Linked DNA regions of Homo sapiens: region 2 is linked to region 1. The links come from fine-mapping of genetic effects on gene expression. A gene starts in region 1. The other region holds a variant in brackets. All regions are shown on one strand. Distances are between the middles of the regions.

The links. PIP is the estimated chance that this variant, and not a neighbour inherited with it, causes the effect.
Region 2: its variant is fine-mapped to the expression of PUS10 in monocytes after LPS (Quach 2016, PIP 0.95).

The regions. Positions count from the first base shown.
Region 1 is chr2:61,013,798-61,022,131 of GRCh38, forward strand. PUS10 (pseudouridine synthase 10) reads right to left here and starts at 4,458. Exons shown (of 18, transcript NM_144709.4): 1 at 4,211-4,458. It overlaps PEX13 (peroxisomal biogenesis factor 13), which reads left to right and starts at 3,923. Exons shown (of 4, transcript NM_002618.4): 1 at 3,923-4,054. The coding sequence starts at 3,963. RefSeq lists an enhancer at 4,330-4,379.
Region 2 is chr2:60,848,279-60,856,612 of GRCh38, forward strand. It overlaps REL-DT (REL divergent transcript), which reads right to left. Exons shown (of 3, transcript NR_033980.1): 3 at 1-956. It also overlaps the pseudogene RPL21P33. Among named protein-coding and RNA genes, the nearest start is that of REL-DT, 29 kb to the right of the region's middle. The variant T/TAAA (reference allele first, on the strand shown) is at 4,510.

The DNA.
Region 1 (8,334 bases):
GCAGATCACTTGAGGTCAGGAGTTCAAGACCAGCCTGACCAACATGGTGAAACCTTGTCTCTACTAAAAATACAAAAATTAGTTGGGTGTGGTGGCTGGCGCCTGCACTCCAGCCTGGGCAACAGAGTGAGATGCTGTCTCAAAAATACAAACAAACAACAACAACAACAACAACAACAAAGTTGATCAGCAGGTCTAAAGACATCAACTTTACTTTGATTATATGACTAAATGGCAACCACCTGTTAACAAAATAAAAATCTGCCCCTTTCATGAGTAAAACCTCCAACAAAAGGTCAGGCGCAGTGGCTCACACCTGTAATCCCAGCACTTTGGGAAGCCGAGGCGGGCGGATCACCTGACAACAGGAGTTTGAGACCAGCCTGGCCAACACGGTAAAACCCTATCTCTACTAAAAATACAAAAAACTATTAGCCAGGTGTGTTGGCGTGTGCCTATAATCCCAGCCACTCAGGAGGCTGAGACAAGAGAATCACTTGAACCCCAGGAGGCGGAGGGTGCAGTGAGCCGAGATCATGCCACTTCACTCCAGCCTGGGCAATAAGAGCGAAATTCCATCTCAAACAAACAAGCAAACAAACAAACAAAAAAACCTTCAACAAAAACAAATTAAGTACAAAATATTTGAGAGCAACTGTTTGCTTAAATTGCCAATTTTTGCAATTTAAATAAACTCACAAAAAAATACTATATAGAGAATGAAGGCAAATCTGTCTCCTGTTACCGGGAAGGAGGGGGTACTAAAAATTCAAACAACCTAATTTGTTCAGCAAAACAAGATCTTCTAATTAGTGAAACAGTTCATATTACCTTAAAATGATCAACTGCCCATATTTTAGAAAATAATCATTGCATGGCAATCTTATGGCATGCTGTAACTGTGGTCATAAAGATGAACGACAGTGGCATCTTTTAATTTGTGCAGTTTCATAATTCAAATGAACTTGCTTAAAATTTGTGGAAGGGTGAAGCTCCTCCCAACAGCTTAGTATAAAGACGTGATTCTTCTAGTCTGCGTTTTCCAAACCTCTAAAACTTCCTACTTACTTGCAAGTTGCTAAATGTTTGGGGCCACTTACCAAGATTCTTGCACAAAATAATGAGGAAGACAGGCATATAGTTACATAGAACTCTTCACCATAAAAATCAGTTCAGCAGCCAGGACTACTAAAAACAGATTGCCTCTGGCTGAATTCTAATTCAGGGGAATATGTGAGTCAGCAGAGGGAAGAAAATCAGGCTTGTATGGACACACCATACAAGCTGACAAGGTGACAACTTTGAAACACCAGAATTGAGAAACGCATAGTTAGGGTTGCCTAAGTAAATTTGGGCTCCAGGGTATTTTCAAGAAAGAAAACAGAATATGTGGAAAACAGCCTCTAAATAATGAAGATCTGGCCAGGCCCAGTGGCTCACGCCTGTAATCCCAGCACTTTGGGAGGCCGAGGCAGGCATTATCACTTGAGGTCTGGAGTTCAAGACCAGCCTGGCCAACATGGTAAAACTCCATCTCTACTAAAATACAAAAATTAGCCACGTGTGGAGGTGTGCACCTGTAATCCCTGCTACTCGGGAGGTTGAGGCAGGAGAATCACTTGAACCCAGTAGGTGGAGGTTGCAGTAAGCCCAGGACTTTGGGAGGCTGAGGCAGGAGGATCATGAGGTCAGGAGATCGAGACCATCCTGGCTAACACGATGAAATCCCATCTCTACTAAAAATACAAAAAATTAGCCATGCGTGGTGGCACGCACCTGTAGTCCCAGCTACTCAGGAGGCTGAGGCAGGAGAATCGCCCGAACCCAGGAGGCAGAGGTTGCAGAGAGCCAAAATCGTGCCACTGTACTCCAGTCTGGGCAACAGAGCGAGACTCCATCTCAATAAATAAATAAATAAGATCTGTGTGGTCAAGGTCAAGTCATTACTATTTACTAGTGATCTGGATCCCTTTTCCCAGCCCATTTAATCTACTTTGATGCAGAGAAGAGATCGGATGCTGTGAGGGGCGAATATAAGCATTTACAGTGCATCTCTGACTACATACACAGAGAAACTGTTTCTGTTTCACCTGTTACTCTAAGTTATTTTTTCTCCATTAGTTAAGGTCAAGAATTTTACTTAATTCAGAAGTAACATTTAACTCAAAAAGAGACAGAAGAAATACACCCTCTTCCAATAAATCAATAAGCACTTTAAAAGGACACTTAATGAAGATTTCCCTCGATACTTAAATAGCTATATTAAAATTTATTTTATTTTCCATGGCTAGAAGACAATGTTTATTTTTCCAGTAAGTTCACAAGAACAAAGGTATCATGCAAAGTAAATAAATGACACATTACAATCTCCTGGCTCTGAGAAGTTCCCAAACCTGATTGATGAGAATTACAAAACTTCCAGTCCTGAGTAATTTGAAGAGGTCTAAAAATAGACCCCAAAAAAGACCTCTTTTGAATGTGTGTTAATAAACGAGCTATGAATTTACAAACCTCTCAACATCATTTTCACCTACCAACAATTTATCAACTTCTCAAGAATGTTAACATTAAAAGGAGAAAATACGTTACGTCTTAAATTTGGTTTTTTCATCGTGAGATAATTAAATGCCAGGATTTCATAAGATATTAGAAATCGGTTGTCCATATTAGATTTATTATGTTTGAAAGCAAGCCCTGAGAAAGGCATTCCACAATGTAAGTTTTCCAGTGTTGGTTACCCTCAAGATGTTTGCTTTTCGTTTATGTGTTTGTTTTATAGAAATAACTCTGTAACAAGTTGCTACAAAGCCGCCTTTCATGTGTCAGGCTCCCTAGGAGGACTGAATCCCTCCTCCCCAAATCAAGGATAACTAGCCCAGTCTCTGGCTTACTGGAGGAGAGGAAGGACTTTATTTTCACCTCTTGGACGATTACAAAAACCAGTCATCGAAAACGAGAAAAGGGGCAGGGTATAAGAAAAACTAGCGAAATGACCAGACTGAGTCTCATATCCTAAGATCTTTTAAAACTCATTTCCCTACCGAAGGGTGTCATTCGTAACGCGGCGTGGGGCTGGGGGTGTGGATTTACGGAGAAAGAGGTGATCACACTTCACTGGGCTTCTGAAACATTCAGCTCTGGAATCTACTGTGGACTCTTGAAAAGTTCATCCCGAGATCTAACCTCAAGCCTCAGTTTTCGCCAAGCAAGCCCTTCCCCCTTCGGTCAGGTGCAACAAACTTCCCACTCACCCCTCCTTTGCTAACAAAGCCGCTCCAGCAGGAGAGAAACGAACTCTCTCCCGCCACACCTCTTTTGCACCCAGTCTGCACTCCTTCACCTCTTACCTACCCGCCTCACCTTCTCCCCAGACGCCGGAGCCTGAGATTTAACCCCTTCCGGCCCTCGAAGGGAAGAGGGAAGACTAAAGACAACGCACCTATTGCGTCTAGCAATTCTGTTCCCCGAGGAAACGTGCGTTTTAGAACAAAAGTACCAGCCCGCTCTCGCTAGGACTAAGTGAGCTTCTCCCTTCTTGTTTGTAGAGGAAATCCGAAAAACTGCCTGGTTTGCCACCTCACCCTACCTCCCCCACGAGCGAAGGAGTGCGTGCGGCTTTACTCCCAGCCCGACTGGTCCACTCCCAGAAAAGCCTCGGTGGGACTCCGACGTCTAGGGAGTTGTAGCCGCTACCAGAAATATCGATGAGCCTTTACCCTGAGGTTTAGAAAGGCAGCTCTTTCTGGGGCAAATACAAAGAGCGTGTTTCTTCCTACAAATTAGTGGCATCCTCCCGCTGTATGGATTCAGCTGGCAAAGTAACTCAAGCCTTGTCCTGACTGCAAGGGTGGGCGGGGTGGACGGCTCGGTGTTCTGCCCGTTGTGTCTTACGCTCCAGGTGCTGGTCTACGCGGGCCTGGACAGTCAGGGGTAGGAGCGGGAGCCGAGAGGAGGCGGAGGAGATGGCGTCCCAGCCGCCACCTCCCCCCAAACCCTGGGAGACCCGCCGAATTCCGGGAGCCGGACCGGGACCAGGACCGGGCCCCACTTTCCAGTGAGTGTGGGATTCTTCAGGCTGTGAGTTTAGTGGGCCCGAGCGGGGACTTGGCAGGAGGCGGTTGTAGCGGTTGTTAGTGGAGGTATTCCCTTCCCCCCTTTAACCAATACCCAACCTTGGGGATAGGGGCCGAGGTGGAGCTGGGGCGCTTACCAGTGGGGACTTTAGTGTCTCACAGCTGTTTCTGACCCGGCAGCTCTAATCAGCAACGTTTTTTTCGGGAGCTCCTGGGCGTCTCTCTGGGTCTCTGTGCTTGAAAGAAAGGGGGGCGGCTTCCTACCTACCGCTTCTGTTTTCACTTTGACAGAATGGCTTCTCTATCTTTAAAGCGTAGACTTTGGTCTGTAGCAGTTGAGAGCGGCATTTGTCCAGCCACGGCATCGACAGGGAGCAAAGTCTCTCCTTAAAGGTGTTAACCTCTCGAGAAGTTGCTGAAAGCCGGAAAGGTTTTACGCAACAGGAACTCAAGCCCCGTACACTTTGCATTCTTTTCCAGCATAACTCAGCCAGTGTTTCGGATCGAGATTGGAGAAGCAACTTTAAAGCAGGAGTTCTAGATCTGAGGCCTATGGATGGACTTTGTGTGCAAAATAGTGTATTTTTCTGAGGCCTGTATTTTTTTTTTGTTTGGTTTTTAATCAGTATCAGTTGGTTTCTAGGACTTTAAAAAGGCTAAAACATGCAGAGTTGGGAGTGTTTCGTGGCCTCGTGTGGCTTTTGTTTGGTAGTGCTGGACATCTTAATTCAGATAGGTGTGATTCAAATGTCAAATCACCTACTATTGTAGGTTTTCCTAAGCGTAAAAACCCCAACATATTGGAATGTATTTCTGCTGTATTCTGAAATCTTTTATTTAAACACTAAAATGCTTTAACACAGTAACGACTTAGTTTAATAAGGATATATACATAACAAGTAATAAGTTTGATTAGGCTGGTAAGCCACGGTGACATTATCTGCTACCTTTTTTTTGAGTGGGTTCTTTTTTCCCCATTTAGGCTGCTTGTCGAATGAGAGAGGTTTTATTTTTTGCATCTGTTAAAGTTCTTTTTATGTAAAATTAACCATTTTCCCACTTTATCGTGAAATATTTTAAACACAGAGACCAGTAGAGAGTAAGATAATACCTATATATTCACTACTCAACTTTAAACAGTGTTAACATTTGCCAGACTTATGTCGAATTTTTCAAAATAAAAGACGGCTAAACTCTCCCATTCTTCTTTATAGTGGTGACTATTGTCCTTATTTGGTGTTTCGCATACCCAGTAATGTTTTTATATTTTAGTACTTAGGTTTGTGCTATTTATATGCATTTTATATCTAAAACTTAACAATGTAACAATAATATATATTTTATATCTAATTACATGTTACTATTTATATATTATTTTTTGTATCTGTTTTTGTTTTTTCTGTTGCCCAATTTTCTATTGGCTTTATCTTTGCTTACCAATTTGTAAGAGTATTGTTAAACTAATCCTTTTTTGTTACTACATTTTGCTAATATTTTTCACTGTGTGGCTTCTCCTCTTTATATTTATGTTCAATTTTTTGTACAGATGTTTTTGATTTTAATACAGCCAAAATTGTCATATTTTATTGTTTATGCTTTTTGTCTTGGTTAAGAAATCCTGTCTACCTAGATCAGGACAGTTTTTCTGTATGTTTTCTTTTAAATCTTCCGGTTTTTTCATTTGCATTTAATCCACATGGAACTGACTTTGTATAAAAATCTAATTTTTTTTTCCATATAGGTAACTAATTGTCGCAGCACCATTTATTGAGTAGTCTATTCTTAGTTTTTAATGCCATCTATGTCATATCAAGGTTTCCTAAATATGTAGTTCTGTTTTGGGCATTTTCTGACTTTCTACTAGCACCACACTATCTTAATTACAGAATTTTATAAGTCTTGATATGTAGTATGTCAAGAGTTTCCACACATTGCTGTTCTTTGTAATTGCGCTCTTTACACTTAGTCCTTTATAAAAAGACTTACTGGGATTTTTATTGGAACTGAGCTGAATTTATGGATCAAGTAAGTTTTTATTCCATGAATATTGTATAAGCTACAATTGGTGGGAATTTATCTTTTTGCCTTAAATATCTTATAATTATCCACTTTGGGAGACTGGGCGGGCAGATCACGAGGTCAGGAGATCGAGACCATCCTGGCTAACTCGGAGAAACCCCGTCTCTACTAAAAATACAAAAAAACATTAGCTGGGTGCGGTGGCGGGCACCTGTAGTCCCAGCTAATCAGGAGGCTGAGGCAGGAGAATGGCGTGAACCCACGAGGCGGAGCTTGCAGTGAGCCAAGATCACGCCACTGCACTGCAGCCTGGGCAACAGAGGGAGACTCCATCTCAAACAACAACAACAACAAAAAACTTATAATTACCTCCATGAAATTTTTTTCCATATTTTATTTTTTATTCCTAGATTATTTTTGCTGTAGTAGTTGCAAATGGGCTTTCTTTTTTCCTTTTACATTTTCCAGTTGGTTATTAACTGGTATGGCAGAATGCTATTGATTTTTTTTAATGTAAATATTATGTACAGCATAATCTCAAACTCTTAATTAGTTCTGATGGTTTGGTTGAAATTCTCTTTAGTTTTGTGTAGCCAGTTCTGTCATTTACAGATAAGCTAGCATCCTTGTATTGGTCCTGACTTCCACTGGAGTGCTTCTGAAGTTTTACTGTTAAATGTGAAGTTTGCTTTTTGTTTTTGATAGATATCTTGTCAAAATTCTCTCTCTCTACCTTGCTCAGATTTATTTTATTTTATTTTTATTTCATTTTTATTTTTGTTTGAGATGGAGTCTCACTGTGTCTCCCAGGCTGGAGTGCAGAGACGCAATCTTGGCTCATGGCAACCTCTACCTCCTGGGTTCAAGTGATTCTCCTGCCTCAGTCTCCCGGACAGTTGAGACTACAGGCGCGTGCCACTCCGCCCAGCTAATTTTTGTATTTTTAATAGAGATGGGGTTTCACTATGTTGGCCAGGCTGGTCTTGAACTCCTGACCTCAGGTGATCTGCCCACCTAGGCCTCCCAAAGTGCTGAGATTACAGGTGTGAGTCACTATGCCCAGCCCTTACCTTGCTCAGATTTTTATTGTGAAGAAATATTAAATTTTATGAATGGCTTTTCTGCATCTGTTGAGACCATTGTATGTATTTTCGCTTTAGTATGAAAATGTGGGAATAGGAACAGCTCTGGTCTGCAGCTCCCAGCGTGATTGACGCACAGGACGGGTGATTTCTGTGTTTCCAACTGAGGTACCTGGTTCATCTCACTGGGACTGGTTGAACACTGGTCGCACCCCATGGAGGGTGAGCCAAATCGAGGCGGGGCATCACCTCACCCAGGAAGCGCAAGGGATTGGGGGATTTCCCTTTCCTAACCAAGGGATGCCGTGACAGACTATACCTGGAAAAATGGGACACTTCTGCCCAAATAGTGGGCTTTTTCCACAGTCTTAGCAACAAGCAGACCAGGAGATTCTCTCCCATGCCTGGCTTGACGGATCCTATACCCATGGAGCCTTGCTCAGTGCTAGCACAGCAGTCTGAGATCAATCTGCGAGGCAGCAGCCTGGCAGGGGGAGGGGAATCCACCATTGCTGAGGCTTGAGTAGGTAAACAGAGCGCCCAGGAAGCTTGAACTGGGAGGAGCCCACTGCAGCTCAGCAAGGCCTACTGCCTCCATAGACTTCAGCTCTGTGGGCAGGGCATAGCTGAGCAAAAGGCAGCAGAAACTTCTGTGGACTTAAACGTCCCTGTCTGATAGCTCTGAAGAGAGCAGTGGTTCTCCCAGCATGGTGTTTGAGCTCTGAGAACGGACAGACGGCCTCCTCAAGTGGGTCCCTGACCCCCGTGTAGCCTGACTGGGAAACACCTCCCAGTAGGGGCTGACAGACACCTCAAACAGGCAGGTGTCCCTCTGGGACAAAGCTTCCAGAGGAAGGATCAGGCAGCAATATTTGCTGTTCTGTAGCCTCTGCTGGTGATACCCAGGCAAACAGGGTCTGCAGTGGACCTCCAGCAAACTCCAACAGACCTGCAGCTGAGGGACGTGACCATTAGAAGGAAAACTAGTAGACAGAAAGGAATAGCTTCAACATCAACAAAAAGGACATCCACACCAAAACCCCATTTGTAGGTTACCAACATCAAAGACCAAAGGTAGATAAAACCACAAAGATGGGGAGAAACCAGAGCAGAAAAGCTGAAAATTCTAAAAATCAGAGCACCTCATCTCCTCCAAAGGA
Region 2 (8,334 bases), 170 kb before region 1:
GTTAAACCTAGAGAAATCGGTGCTGAGACATCCAAGCTAGAAATGAAACATACAGTCAGTAGGAGCCTTGCATGGGCTTCTCCCTTGCTGGAGCAAACCAAAATAATAGAGACAGTTTTACATTCCTAGTGCCAGGACCCATCTCAGGTCGACAAAATCTGAGACAAGTCAAGGTTACAGAGGCAGCTGTTTTAATAAATTCATTGGGAAGTCTAAGGCAGCTCTCCAGACCAAGCTGTAAAAGAGATAAGATAGAAATAATCACTCCGTACCACCATAGACAGGCCTTGAAGGTACTGGGGCCCTTTTAATCGGACTTAGCATTTCTTTTTTTTGCCTCTGACCTTCTAGTTGAAACAAAATTAGTTACCAATAGACTTAGGCGAATGCTAGACTGCACTAAGAAAATTTTAACACTTTTGAGTTGGTCTGGTGGAATTATCTCCGGCCTTCTCCCTGTATCCGGCTATAGTAGTCAATTCCCTTCTTTCCTAGTTTGTCTGCTTCTTGTTATTGAGCCTCCAGAAAATGCAGCCGGACCTAGCTTGGTTCCGGGAACAGGAGTGGGAGCCTCGGGGTACTGCAAGGAAAAGGGAAAGAGAGAAGACAAATGCAGGGCGGACAATCCAAGGAATGCCTGATCCATGGGAACTGGACTTGCCCAGGGTCTTTTCTGCCTCTAATAGGTTCCGAAGCAGGTTCTCCACATGTGCCCCTGCTCGATGCTCTCTCCCAGGTTCATTGCTCCTCCTATCCAAAGACTTCTGCCTGCTTGCCTCACTAATGGTGCCTCTTTTAGGTTGTGTCACAGCCTTCCCATTAAAAATTCCCATCATCCTGGTCAGGCACGGTGGTTCATGCCTATAATCCCAGCACTTCGGGAGCCCGAGGTGGGCGGATCACTTGAGGTCCCAGGAGTTCGAGACCAGCCTTGGAAACATGGTGAAACCCCATCTCTACTAAAAAAAATACGAAAAAAAAAAATTAGCAGGGTGTGGTGGCTCACGCCTGTAATCCCAGCTATTCAGGAGGTTGAGGCAGGAGAATCACTTGAACCCAGGAGGCAGAGGCTGCACTTAGCTGAGATTGCAACACTGCACTCCAGTCTGGGTGACTAAGCAAGACTCTATCTCAAAAAAAAAAAAAAAAAAAAAAAAAAAAAACCAACACTATCCAGTGGCATGTCCTAAGAAAAAAATTAAAAAGCTATTTTCAGCCTGTGTAAGTTAAAGGTGGGAGAGGGTGGAGGAGATGCTGACAGCCCCAGTGCCTGGTAGACAGGGGGCAGTTTGCTTTGCTCATTTATATACAGTAGTGATCACTGAATGGCCAACCCATCCTCCAGCTGGGACCAGCCATCAAAGACAGATGAGGCAGCCACTTACCTAGTGTGATCAGAGGGAGACCAAAGACTCTGTTGCACCAACCCCTTGCCACAGTATTTACCGTGCTCTGATCAGGATAGCCCTTCCTTGGGTAAAGACCCCATGTTTCCAGGGGCCACCTTTCAAAGCCCCAGATGTCCTTGTGGAAGGCAGAGGGTTCAATCCAAGACAATCCTTTACACCTGCCAGTTCCAAAAGAGGTCTACACCATGTGTGTCTAAATATTTAAAAGTTATAATCAAGCCAACAAACTGATGAAATATGTTCCATCTTCCTACCCTGATGACAATTTGGAAGGCTGGGTTCAACTTCAGAATTCTCAGACTCTACTTAGACTTCTCTGCCAGAAGTGGTGGCACATGAAGGGCCAGCCAGCCCCTAGCCCCAGCTCATGTCCAGCCTCCCTTCTCCTCCCACCCTGGATCCCTCCCACACCACAGGGGCCTCCCGTATAGGTATGTGGGCACCCCTGCCTGCACTTTCAAGCTCTGTCCAGCTGCCCCTTGGGTACTCTGGGCTTTGGGATGCACACACCACGAACGTAGTCTGCCCTTGAGACCACCGATACTGGGAACAGGCCTGCAGGAGAGCTGGGGCTCTTTGAGTTCTCAGGTTCCCAAACTGTGATCTTGAAGGAGAGCATGGGCTCCAGGCTGGGGAGGAGTCCCCTTGGTCCTAAGGACTCTTCACCCCATGGAGAGGGGCATGGCAGGAGCAGGCCCCTCTAAAGTGCAGGACTCAGGGCAAGGGCCCTCTTGCCAGTTCTAATGAATGAAGCAGAGGACAGAAAGATACCAAGGAAGAGAGAAAGGAGAATGTGTGGACAGCATGGGATGCTCCCTGGGGAGGAGCTCACAGTGAGGAGTCCCTGGGCAGCCAGGGGGCCATCCCAAGATTGGGGAAAGAAAAGCTAGGAAAGCAGGAATGTGAAAGGAGGTGAGTGGAAAGTAAAAAGGCACTGAAAACAAACCTACTTGATAACAAACCTTGCTCTCTTTGGGTATATTTTATTCATGTATGTGTGATGCATTTTTTGTTTGTTTGTTTGTTTTGAGACAGAGTCTCACTCTATCTCCCAGGCTGGAATGCAGTGGTGCGATCTCGGCTCACTGAAACTTCTGCCTCCTAGGTTCAAGTGATTCTCATGCCTCAGCCTCCCAAGTAGCTGGGATTACAGGCGCCTGCCACCACACCTGGCTAATTTTTGTATTTTTAGTAGAGACAGGATTTCACCATGTTGGCTAGACTGGTCTCGAACTCCTAACCTCAGGTGATCTGCCTGCCTCAGCCTCCAAAGTGCTGGGATTACAGGCATGAGCCACGGTGCCCAGCTGATGTATGCATTTTTAATTGAACCATTAATCCTACTCCCCAGTTCATGGCACATCATCATCATCCTTATTATATATTTGGGTGGTAAAAGGTCACTTTTGTTTTATTTATGTATTTATTTCCTTTCATTTTCATTCCCCAATGCCCACCCCACATCCCCATTGGCAACAATTTTGTACACACAGGGGGCCATCCTGACCCCTCTCTCTTCACTCCTGCGTGCAATAGCCCTGTCTGAACCCAGGAACCATTCCTCTACATAGATCTGTTATGTCTCTTCAAAGTGGTCGTGCATCCTCCATCTCCAGGACAGGATATAGCTGGTTCCCTCCTAGGCCTTGCAGGAAGACTAGAATATGTTAAAACTTCTAGAAGGCCTTGTTAAGCCTAGAATGGACTTTTGCATAGATCACCCCACCTTGGACCCTGTAGAAAGGAAGTGCCAAAATCCCATTAGAAGTCATTTTCATCTGTAAATAAGTCCCTAACATGTTTTATTATTATGTTATTTTGAAGCCTATTACATTCCAGTATCATATTTTAACCTCCTAAAAAAGAGTTTGTCATAAATGTCCTACAGTGGATAATGTGCCTGTACTAATTTTTTTCCCCAGAAAACGGTCTAAGTTTCTGGCTACCACATGTATAACAGTAATTATCATTCTTTATCTTTTATATTGCAGTTATCTCCTTCAGTCATTTCCTGATAATAAATCATTTTGTTTTGTCATTTCTATTACCTTGGCATACCAGAAACATGGGTAGATTTTTATTAACATAAAATAGTTGATTGACTCCTAATTATAGCACCCAAAGTGCAGACATTTCAAATCTGGCTGTCATCCAGTCTGTCCCTGGATCTAAGGCAAAAAAAAAAAAAAACTAAAAAATAAAATAAAATAAAGGAACTCTGGTTGTTTCATAGGAGTGTGTGTGCGTGTGTGTGCATGTGTGTGTGTATTAAAAAATAATTTATATATCTAAATTATCCTGAGGCCAATTTAAAATAAACTTTTAGCATCGATCCTAATTTTCCCCTTTAATAACACATTTATATCTTTTTCTTCTTTTTGTATTTAGAGACAAGGTCTCACTTTGTTGCCCAGGTTGGTCTTGAACCCTGAGCTTAAGGGATCCTCCTGCCTCAACTTGCCAAAGTGCTGGAGTTACAGGTGTGAGCCACCGCACCCAGCCAGATTTAAATCTTAATATGAACTAAATGACCCTTTCAGCCAGAACTGGCATCTTCCAGTAATTTCCCAAAATGACAAACACAAAGAGGTGAGGCACGCAACCCGTGTTCTCTAGGCCTTTTAGAAAACATGGAGTTGTTCCTTTGGCCACATATATGCCAATCTGCGAGAAAGGTGATATTGTAGACATAAGGGAATGTGTACTGTTCAAAAAGGAATGTCCCACAAATGTTATCACGGAGAGACTGGAAGAGTCTACAGTGTTCCACAGCATGCTGTTGGCATTGTTGTAAACAAACAAGTTGAGGGCAAGATTCTTGCCAAGAGAATTAATGTGGGTATTTATTGAGCACAGCCACCATAGCATTATTAAGCACAGCCGCCATAGCTTCCTGAAACATGTGACGGAAAATGATCAGAAAAAGAAGGAAGCCAATGAGGAAGGCACTTGGGTTCAACTGAGGTGCCAGCCTGCTTCACCCGGAGAAGTGCACTGTGTGAGAGCCAACAGGAAACAGCCTGAGCTGCTGGACTCTCTTCCCTATGATGAATTCATGGTGTAATCGGTGTAAAAAAAAATTAAAAGACCTCTGGACTGT[T/TAAA]AAAAAAAAAAAGGGAAGAAAAAAAGAAAACAACAACAACAAATAAATAAATAAATAAATGCACCCTGACCAAAATTGCTAAACAGTTTTTTCCAATCCCATTTATTTTGGTTTTCTAGAAATGTGAACATATGATAAGTTGTGTGGGAAATTGTACGCGTGTGGTATTAGCAGGGGCAGCTTATTATTAAGATGTCTCTGGTGGTAGTAATGTTTCTATGATATCATAGTTGGAAGTTATTTAATTGAAAAAGGTAAGATATTGTAAATAAGAGTCAAATCCATGGTTCTAAAAACCATGCCTGAAGACCAGCTCTTAGGGAATATGGGCTCTGAGGATCAAGACAGGAGAGACGGCAGCAATTGGTCCAGGGAGATGCTCTCCCATCCTGAGAGTCAGAGTTGCCCCGTTGCCTTTGCAGTCCCCTCCTTGTTAATCTAAAGTGTGGTTCCTAGGAAACTAAGGAGTTGTCACTAAGGGAGAGTTTAGATGTTTTATCAGATTAGAATTTAAATACTTGATCAATGGGTGCTAACATAATTAGGTCCTAACAAAATTGCAGGCAAACTCTAAATGAAGAAGTGCCTTTGTCGCTGCTGCCCTAATTGGGGTTTGGAGGTATCTCAGGACTCAAGCTGGGAGATCTTTCCTATCCAGGGCAGGTGTTAGCTCACGAAGGATTTTTGTGCAAATTAGGGAAGGTCCTCCAGATAGACTGACAGAGCCTGTACCCAAGGTGCCTGGCCAGGAGTGTGGGGCCTGGGCTATAGCCCCCACCATAGCCTCCACAGTACATGTGGCTGTCCTTCTGTGTCAGTGTTCAAACAAGTTCTAGCCTCCCCCTGGACACCCTGTCTCCTTCCAGTGACTACCTTAAACCTCAGTTCCCCTTTCCACCCTTCTGTAAAGTCACCAGTGGTTCCATGTGGCTAAGTCCAAGGAATTGGTTTTGTTCCTCATATTACTGCCCACTTAGGAAACTCTGACCCTGCGGATCACTCTCTCCTTAAAATGCTCTTGCCTCTGCCTCTGTGATGCCACACGCTCCTTGGGTTTCTCCTCCTACTCTCCTTTTTCCTCTTAGTTTGGGGCTTCCTCCTTGCAACCATGTTTACATGTAAGCTTCACTCAAGCCTCAGTCCTGACCTTCCTCTCTTCCTATTCTCGACTCTTTCCATGACCTAAGATATGATTCCCACAGCCAGGGAAAGCCTTATTTCTCTATCTTCACGTCCATCCCAGAGGGGACAGTACTGGATCACCTCCCCTGGCTGTCTCTCCACCATTTACCACTCTTTTCCAAAGACCAGGTAAATGAACCGATGGGGGGATGGAAGTGGGGTTTGGGGAAAGGCTGCATAAGCTCTAGGGAGCCAAACTGGACCACATGGGTGGTCTGGCAATTTCACCAAGGGGCCTCTGCCTCTGCCGAGGGGAGGTCCACAGCGGAGTGGGGAGATTCAGTGCGGGGGAAGGCATTAGGAAGATTAGTGGTGTCTGCAGAGTCCCAGCTGCATTTTCCAATCCAACTTTATCAGCAATAAAGTTGATATTGATCCCTAGCTGTGGACTCATTCTACTTCTCAGTTGGTTCCAACTCAGTGGAAGGTAGATGATGCGTACGTCTACCACCACCCTCAAAACCCGCACAGGGCCCAAAGCCCAGGAAAGCTTAAGGAACGGGCACAGGGATGGAGACTTAAGATACACCCAGTAAGAAGGATGCTTTGGACAGGAGGGGATTCTAGGTCCTTGACTTATTTAGGATACAGCAGTTTAATGAGACTGGTGTCACAGGACCTCAGCAAACTCAGGCCTTTGCTACCTTAGTATACACAGGTTGCGCAGACTTTTGTAACTGATAGATCTAAGCAGGTGCCGCCAACATTAGAGGAATCGTTCAGTCACTTAAAACTTGCAGAGCTTCAGTGACTACATTCTTTAGATATCAGTAGTTGGGATACTTTTTTGTCGTGCCTATCATGCTTCTCAGGCAGGGACAGGCCAAAGGAAGCTAAGCTCCATGTGGGCTACAGCTTCGGTTCTCAAACTCTCACATGCATAAAAGTCACTGAGTAAGCTTATTAAAATACAGTTTCCTGGGCTTCCACTCCATGATTGAGTAGGTCTGGGGTAAAATCTAGGAATTTGCATTTCTAACAAGTTCCTAGGTGATGCTACTGGTCTGAGGACCACTGGGTTAGAGTACACTAGCCTGTGTGGTTCTAGCCTTCCACGCATTCAATCAACTGCTTCAAATTCTCTTCCTATTTATGTTATGTTGACCTGAATCCGATTTTAGGGCCAAGAAAAGAACTGTGGTGGAATTAATATCCTGATTCTGTACACTTACCTCCAGACTCCTAGAATCACCCTCAAAACCCATGGCATAGTTTAAAGTCCTCTGTAGATTTGTTACTTAACCCTGGCCATGGTTTTGATCAGAGACCCAGATTTGGAGGTTCAGCCACAGAGGGTAGTGGCTTTTTATCAATGAACAGATAGAGAAACTGGGGACCTTATTTTACAGGTGGCTGGCCATCTTTTGGGGCATTAATGAAAATATTAGTAAAACCAAAGATTAAGAGGAATAGGTTGGATGGGGTGGCTCACACCTGTAATCCCAGCACTTTGGGAGAACAAGGAGGGGAGACTGCATGCCTCCAGGAGTTTGAGACCAGCCTGGGCAACATAATGAGACCTCATCTCTAAAAAAAATAAATAAATAATTAACCAGGAGTGGCTGTTTATAAATGCCTATAGTCCCAGCTACACAGGAGGCTGAGATGGGAGGATTGCTTGAGCCCGGGATATCAAGGCTGCAGTGAGCCATGACTGTACCACTGCACTTAGTTAGCCTGGGCACAGAGCAAGACCCTGTCTAAAAAAAAAAAAAAAAGAAAAAAAGAAAAAAACTGGCCAGGCGTGGTGGCTCATGCCTATAATCCCAGCACTTTGGAAGGCTGAGGCAGGCAGATCACTCGAGGTCAGGAGTTTGAGACCAGCCTGGCCAACATGGCGAAACCCCGTCTCTACTAAAAATACAAAAATTAGCCAGGTATGGTGGCGCATGCCTGTAATCCCAGCTACTAGGGAAACTGAGGTAGGAGAGTCACTTGAACCCGGGAGATGGAGGTTGGAGTGAGCCAAGATCACGCCCCTACACTCCAGCCTGGGCAACAGAGCAAGACTCCATCTCAAAAAAAAAAAAAGAAACCAAAAAACCAAAAATGAATAGTAAAAAGACCTGTGGCAAGAACACACTGTCTCCAAGAATCAAGGAGGAGCTGAACTGGTTGAGACACGCTGACCTTGAAGTCAGAATGAGAGCAGTTGGAGAGAAAGAGAAGTAATGCAGCTAGGCTGATAATGGGGGAAGGGAGGACAGCAGGGGAAGAAGCCTGGGGTTCAGCCAGAGACACACCTGGGTTGTTTGCAGCCAGTGTCCATGCTGACTGGCTAAAGCTGAGCCTTACCACCATTGCCATGTAGAGGGAAGGATTTCCTTAAGAGAAATGTTTTGATTGTGAAGGCAAGACTAGTCCAATCTAAAAGGCAAAGGGAGATATGCTTGGACCCAACTGCTCTCAAATAAGGTATTATTAATAGAGACTCTTTTCCTTTGGCTACTACTAGGCCGGAAAGGGTGACTCGGGTCCAAAGAACTCCAATAAAAAAGGAGAGATTTCAGAGAAGAGAATGGAATAATCTACACACCTACCCCACCCTCAACCAGGGAGCATAGTTCCAGGAAGCTCTTGAGAGGTCCTCTCTTAAAAGGTCAGATAAGGAGTCAACAGTAAGTTTAACTGGGGAAATCGCCC